2 linked regions of the Homo sapiens genome follow. The protein of the gene in region 2 purifies or fractionates together with the protein of the main gene of each other region. This does not show direct contact. Each region holds a gene or a part of one and is shown on either strand. Other genes may lie near its edges.

What was found.
Region 1: the proteins of UPRT (region 2) and CDKAL1 purify together in Homo sapiens (affinity purification with mass spectrometry; one large-scale study listed by BioGRID and IntAct). This does not show direct contact.

The regions. Positions count from the first base shown.
Region 1 is NC_000006.12:20,544,418-20,548,238, reverse strand, and holds part of CDKAL1 (threonylcarbamoyladenosine tRNA methylthiotransferase), read right to left. Parts: intron 1,901-3,821; exon of another isoform or gene 1,894-1,900; 5' UTR 1,889-1,893; coding exon 1,716-1,888; intron 1-1,715. UniProt on the Homo sapiens protein: Catalyzes the methylthiolation of N6-threonylcarbamoyladenosine (t(6)A), leading to the formation of 2-methylthio-N6-threonylcarbamoyladenosine (ms(2)t(6)A) at position 37 in tRNAs that read codons beginning with adenine.
Region 2 is NC_000023.11:75,294,396-75,298,216, reverse strand, and holds part of UPRT (uracil phosphoribosyltransferase homolog), read right to left. Parts: intron 3,655-3,821; coding exon of another isoform or gene 3,597-3,654; intron 3,199-3,596; coding exon of another isoform or gene 3,170-3,198; exon of another isoform or gene 1,876-3,169; coding exon 1,806-1,875; intron 727-1,805; coding exon 664-726; intron 1-663.

The sequences.
Region 1 (3,821 bases), on a different chromosome or scaffold from region 2:
ATTTTTAAAATAAAAACCACTAGATGATTTTAAGATATATTACACAAAAAACAAACTCACTACAATCCATTCAAAAGCTATTCATTAAACGCACCAACTTAACTCAAAATCTGTTGTTGTATCAAAAGTCTAAAATCAAGATAAAATAACCACAGAATTCTAAAAAGTTAACACTCCACATAAAAAAATATCCTTTTTCTCTGAATTGCATTTTAAATTCATACTACTAACTTACTAAGTTCAACTCCTGGAAAGGTACACAAAAATAACAATAGGAAAGAAAGTGGTTCTAGCAGCAATGGCAAATAAAGAAAAGTATGTCTGTTTACAGATTCCTACATACTAGTTGCAATCTGTAGCTTCCTTAAAACTTACAGATATAAGTAACTTAATCAAAGTTAAAAACCGTCATCCTAAAGCATTATTAAAAGCACTCTATAAAATCAGAGTTCTAAAAATAACTTTTAGGGGAAAAAAGGACTTTCAACTTGGATTGCTCTAATAATTTATAAGTAAATAAAAATTACCTTAAGGACACATTTAGGACAAATTTTATAAACTTCAGTCATTAAAATATAAGCAAATTTTAAATTCCAAGAATTTAAAAGCTTAGTTTCCCAACAAAATAAGCAGATTATAAAGTTCAGCAGTTGACTAGATAAACAAATATAGGCTTATTAAAACCATATAATTACATTATCCTTTCTGGTTAGGTTGTATCAAAATTTCACGGACTAGAGATCTACTATAATAGCGTAAATAGGGCAATAATTTATTTGTGCCCACTGCCTTTACCTGATCCACAGGTATTTGAAAATCAGCTAAGAAAATTCAAATGTCCAAAATACTACTGTCTCATAAGAATCACAAACTCTGGTAAAAATTTTATTTGGAAATAACACAGACTTACATATCAACTACAGTAATACCCAAGAGATCCCTATTGCCCGAGGCTATCTTCTAGGAACATCCAATTTGACATCTCATTTCTTTTTAACCAATTACCTTGCCAAATTTAAAATCATTCAAATAAAAAAAAAATCTACATACAGGTTGAGTTTCTTTAATTCAAAAATTCAAAATCCACAATGCTCTAAAATCTGAAACTTTTTGAGTGCCAAAATGATACTCAAAGGATGCTCACTGGAGCATTTCAGATGTTTGGATTAGGAATACTCAACTGGAAAGTATGTAATGCAAATATTCCGAAATCCAAAAAAAAAAATGTGATATCTGAAACACTTCTGGTCTCAAGCATTTCAGATAAGTGATACTCAACTTGTATTTCCTATCAAAAGTTCAAAGATTCTAATGAAGAGACATTATATATATCACACAGACCAGTAGCGTCAGCTTCTCCCTGGAATGAAAATGAATATAATTTCGGCCGTGCTCAGTGGCTCAGGCCAGTAATCCCAGTACTTTGGGAGGCCAAGGTGGGCAGATCACCTGAGGTTAGGAGTTCAAGACCAGCCTGGCCAACATGGTGAAACCCCATCTCTACTAAAAATACAAAAAATAGCCAGGTATGGTGGTGTGTGCCTGTAATCACAGCTACTAGGGAGGCAGAGGCAGGAGAATAGCTTGAATCCAGGAGGAGGAGGTTGCAGTGAACCGAGATCACACCACTGCACTCCAGCCTGGGCGACAGAGCAAGACTCTGTCTCAAAAGAAAAAAAAAGAAAATGAATATAATTTCAAGGAAAAAAGCTTACCTGTCACTTGGTGGACTGTTTTCTTCCTCTTGCAAATATTTTTGGGTATTTCGCCTTCGTACCTTCGGGACAACATCCTTTCTTACAAAATGCCTATCTTGTGGTTTTGAATCTTCCTGAGACACGATATCTTCGATGTCATCCAGTAGTGTATCACAGGATGCAGAAGGCATATTCTCTACCACATAAAAGTTATAAATAAAATCAACTTATGAAAATCTGCTTAGCGTAGCATCATTTATGAAATATTCTCACCAAATTTGAATCTAATCAAGCCTTTGGATCTAACTTCAAATTTATAGAAAATACAAGAGATAAAGAAACACAAGGATGAAGTACTATCTTGGGTATATTGAAAAAAGAAACACAATGAAACAATCAGACAAAACCCTAATGACAATGGGACATTCCAAGGTTCAACAGGAACTATTTCTTCAACAAATCAATGTCAAGTAGGAAAAAGTAGGAGAGGAACTGTTTCAGATAACAGGAAGCGTAAAAGCCTAACAACAAAATGCAGTTCATGTTCTTGATTGTTTCTTCTTTGTCTGTCAAGCTATAAGAAATTTTGGGTATAACTAGGGAAATCAGAATATAAGCTGGATATTAGATAATATGAAGAAGTTATTATAAATCATTCGATATAAAGTATTGTCCTTATATTCAAAAATTTTATTTTTTAGAGATGCATATTGAATATTTAGAAGTGAAATGTCATTATGTCTATAATTTACTTTAAAAGGACCTCAGAAAAAATAGACTGGCTAGCCACAGTGGCTTATGCCTGTAATCCCAGCACTTTGGGTGGCTTATGCCTGTAATCCCAGCACTTTGGGGAGGTGGGCGCATAACTTGAGGTCAGGCGTTTGAGACCAGCCTGGCCAACATGGTGAAACCCCATCTCTTTTAAAAGTACAAAATTAGCCAGGCATGGTGGTGTACACCTGCAGTTTTAGCTACTTGGGAGGCTGAGGAAGGAGAATCGCTGGAACCCAGGAGGCAGAGGTTGCAGTGAGTCGAGAGTGCACCACTGCACTCCAGCCTGGGCAACAGAGCAAAACTCCATCTCAAAAAAGAAGAAAAAATAGATTAAGACATACTGAAAAGCATTTACAACTCTTAAAACTAGAAACTAGATAGGTTCATGTTCATTATCCTATACGACTTTTCTAAATATTCAAAATTTTTATAATTAAAAGAAGAAAATGTGGACACAGCTTGCAAGAAGATAAGCACATTTTTCCCTGCCCCGCCAGCAAAATACAAATAAAACTCTGGACATTATATATAAAACAAGCATAAGGCAGACTGGCTATGAACCTCAGGACCCAAGGAATATGATGAGTTCCTTGGGTTTTCTTCTGCCTCCTACAGCTCACTAAAGATCCCAGCAATCAGAAATGGCAAGAGATGCCAACAATAAAACCCCCCAATAAAAGCCTGCTTTCTCGTTAAAGAACTATACAAAGGGCAGCCTAGGAAGACAGAAAAGTTTTAGATAATAATCATTCTACTCCAGCCAAACACAAACACACACACACACACACACACACACACAAAACTGTAATCCCACCCCCAGGCACGCTACAAAGGCCAAGTGGGGAGAGCTTGGACTTCTACCTACAATCAAGCACCCCAACACACTCCACTAGTGTAGAATCAGAGAAGGACCTGGAGGGATCCTGGACATTCAAACCAACCAACCGACCAGTAATGAAGTTTTGCAGTGTCAGTGGAGACCAAACTGATACACAAGTTTAAAATAATCCCTATCAAAATCCCAGGAAGATTTTTTTGTAGGTATAGATAAGACTATCCTAAATTTTATATGGAAATGTACAGAAACTAATATATTTAAAACAATTTTGAGAAGAGTAAAGTAAGAAGAACTGGTCTACCCAATTTTTTTTTTTTTTTTTTTTTTTTTTGAGACGGAGTTTCGCTCTGTGGCCCAGGCTGGAGTGCAGTGGCGCGATCTCGACTCACTGCAAGCTCCGCCTCCTGGGTTCACGCCATTCTCCTGCCTCAGCCTCCCGTGTAGCTGGGACTACAGGCGCGCGCCACCATGCCCGGCTAATTTTTGTATTTTTAGTAGAGACGGGGTTT
Region 2 (3,821 bases):
AGTTTTAGACCAGCCTGGGCAACATAGCAAGACCTCATCTCTACCAAAAAAAAAAAAAAATTGTTTTTTAATTTGCTAGGTATAGTGGCATGTGCCTGTAGTACTAGCTGCTCAGGAGGCTGAGGTGGGAGGATTACTTGAACTCAGGAGTTTGAGGTTACAGCGAGCTATGATCACGCCACCATACTCCAGCCTGGACAATAGAGTGAGACCCTGTCTAAAAAAAAAAAAAAGTAAAAATATCAAACAAGTCATTTAGCCCAACAACAGAAATAAAAACAGAAGAAATATTTTCTCCAGTCAGGTATTCAAAGTTCTCCAAGCCCGAATTTATACCATATTCCCTCAGTCTTCAAACTGACCTGTTCTCCCCAAGATAGCATCACCACATCCTCCTATCCTCCCATCCTCCTCTGAATCTCTTTGAAAGCTGGCTTGCCCATGGGAGCACTCTATTAGGGAATACGCTCTGTAGTTAAAATTAGCCAAACCTAGCCTCACACAGGCCATGACTCCACAGCACCATGAGGCTAGATAACACAGGTAGTGAGATTTAACTAAAGGCAGGCTGCAATTATGACAGACAAGCCTGCCTCTCTTCTGGAAAACAGCAACCATTTCTATGCATACAAAGAGACAAAAATCACACACACGTGAACCTACCGCTTCTCATTATGCTGACCCCACAATTTCCCTTCTCAAATTTCACTCCTTCATACTTGTACCCTGTTAGGAAATAAAACCAAAGAATTTATCTTTCATCACTGGAGTAACCTACATATTTTATAAAGTGTCTACGGTTTAAAGTAGATGGGCACAAAGCAACCCTTGTTCAGACACACTGTATAATGCCTGAGATTCCCTGTGGAAATAATGAGATGAGTCATGATTTTTCAGTTATTTCTTAATTCTTCATAAGAAACCTGTGGGGATAATTGGGAGAGGCAGACTTCATTGAATGGGAATAGGACTTATTATAACACGATATTCACATACACATTCCTCAAACTGAATTCAAAGAGAATCACTGCACTCTGAGAATGCTATATACCCCATCAATTCAAACTGGGACCCCACTGTGAGCCACAGCAGAAAGCTTCCTCATTCCATTCTTCTTTATGAGCCTCTGTTCTTCTTTATGAGCCTCCATTCTGCCTTAAAAGCAGAAGAAAGTGGCTGAAATAGTTATTAAGACATGCTCAACTCTTGGTCTCATCCTGAATTTGTGTCAATTATGATGCTACAAACTCAGTCCCCAAGTTTCATAAAGTAAACCCTTTGAATAGAACAGTTTTACGTTATTTACTGAACCAAATCATAATTTCAAATCCCTGAAACAGGGATCTTTGGCTACTTTCTATTAAAGGATAGAACAAAGCACCTTCTCCAATTCTTATCATTTTTAGTTTTCTTTTTTACTTTCTATCCTTTTTTAACATGTAATTTCAGTGCCAAAACAGACTTGCCCATTTGTGCTCACCAGCAGCTTTCCCATAGAGATGAAGATAAGCTGCCAGCAATTCTTAACTATGGTCTCAATGGGCCATCATTAGAGGCAACACGTGCATGCTGAAGAGTATTTGTTAACCTTTAACTTGAATTGACAAGCAAGCCCTTAACAAAAAGTCATCTACACAGATTTCTTTCCTAAATGCCTGAGTTTTATTTTTAAGATTTTAAAAGAATAGCTCCACCTAGCCCTTCATTTTGCATATTTATTTTACTTAGACTGCTTTACTTACATCTTTCCCCATTCTAGCTCAGAATTTTTATGAGGAAAATTTGAGAATAACAGCCCTAGTTACCTGTTGGAGTGGTCACCATGCATTCTTTATATGGCAGCTGATTCAATCCCTCTTCCACAACAAGTCTGATCTAGAGAGTCAAAGGAAGAAGAAGTTGAGAACCTGCTGGGAATCTCCTGTTAGCTGTTAGCTTCAGGAGCTGAACAGTAGGCAGAGTCATGAACACACTAGGCAAAGGTTTCACTTGTGGAGGCAGTAAGGGGCCCCCTATCATGTGTTAGATACAGGGATAGATCCAAATGCCATACTACTTGCTGCTAGGTATCCAACCTCAGATAGGCCATGATTGTCACCAAAAGGCTCCAATATTCCTTCTGATTCTCATTCTGTCAGTCCAGACTATGAGGGACACAAAACTCCAGCAAGTGACAACAGTCATGGCAAGCACTCTTGGAAGTAATATACTTCTTATTATTCTGGAAATAGTGCTCACTGGGAATTTCTCTGCTTTATTCAGTACCTTGGAAATCATTAAGTCAGATTATTTTTAACAAAGGCCCACTATAATGTAAATAAAGCCTGAAACTTCTTTAGAGGAAATAAATGAGTGCATTGGCTGAACCAATTTACTGAGCTTGAAGGAGGATCCAGTAAAATGCACTGGGGCTTCTCAGCTAAAGAAAAGGCTCATATCAATCATAATGTGTGGTACAAAGGAAAGCATCACTCAGAACTACTACAAGAGCCTCCAAAAACAAGATATGGTAATTCCATGAACAACCAAAGCCAACTACAGTAAAAGTAATGCTGAGTCTGCAATGCACATTTTATCCAATCAACATTACATTACTGATTGAGAATCTGCAACAGCAGGGAGCAGCACCAGGCCCTATGCTCTGTTATCACAACATATAATAACACCCTGCTGCCATTAAAACAATCAATTCTAAATAAGCCAGGATTTTGTCAGCCTGCAGCATCAGACAGAGGGCCCAGGCACCTCATGAATACTGCACATGTGTGCATACTCACTTCCAGCCACCATCTTCTGTGGAGATTTTTTTTTATGAGCAAATTACAAGGGTAAAAGAGGATTATTTTCTTTGAAGAGCCTAGATCTTTTCCTCCTAGTAACAGTCCTCTAATGAGTCTTACCTCCTATCCCCATCCCCTCCAACACTGGGACAGAAATTAGTGTGCCCAACTCTTACAGGAGTGCATAAAATCAGAAGAGTGACTAAAATATAAAGAACCCAAGGATCTGAGGGCCAAGGAAGCCAACCCTGACAAATTCAGGATGAAATTAATATATATATGATAATATATATTAATGACATGTGCTGCAGGAGATAGTGTACTAGAAATCCTCAAGAAGTTAAACCTAAATAGCTCCAGTCTCTACCACAACCACAACAGACCCTTTCTCACCCCATATCAGGACCTTGAAAGCCACCTGCAGAGAACAGAGAGAGATCCAAATCATTATCCCCTCAGGTGAATTATGCCATAGGTCCTTACTATCTCACTGGGCTAAGATTATGCTTGCCCTTTCAGGGAAGCATCTTACAATAACCGTGAACTTAACTCCTACTTTCTATAGAAAAAGAGCATAAGAACAGCAAAAGAAAGAGGAACCGTTTTCTACCAGTAAACACCAAAACAGCAGCCATTAAGATACAAGTTCTTCAAGCCTGTTCTTTTGGTTTGATAAAAGCATAAAAGACAGAATGACGTAACTATTGCTCCAGGAATGTCAACCACATTTATCTTGTTACTATCTAAGGGTTATTACTGCCAATGAAAACTCAAATAATTTTAAATAAAATTGGTCTCTGAACCAAGAATACTTACGATGAAAAGCAGAACAGGAGTTGTCTATGCTCTTTTGGAATAAATCCTCAGGCAAAACCTAAATGAAAAGTTTCATGCCTTTTTTTCACATTCCTTTTAATCATCTACCTTAATCTGATTATAACTTTGGGGCTAAGAAGCCCTGTTCATTCCTTTCTTTCCCAAACTAAATTTGCACTTAGTTTGTAAATCTAGTATTTAGATCATAAACACCAAGAGATTAGA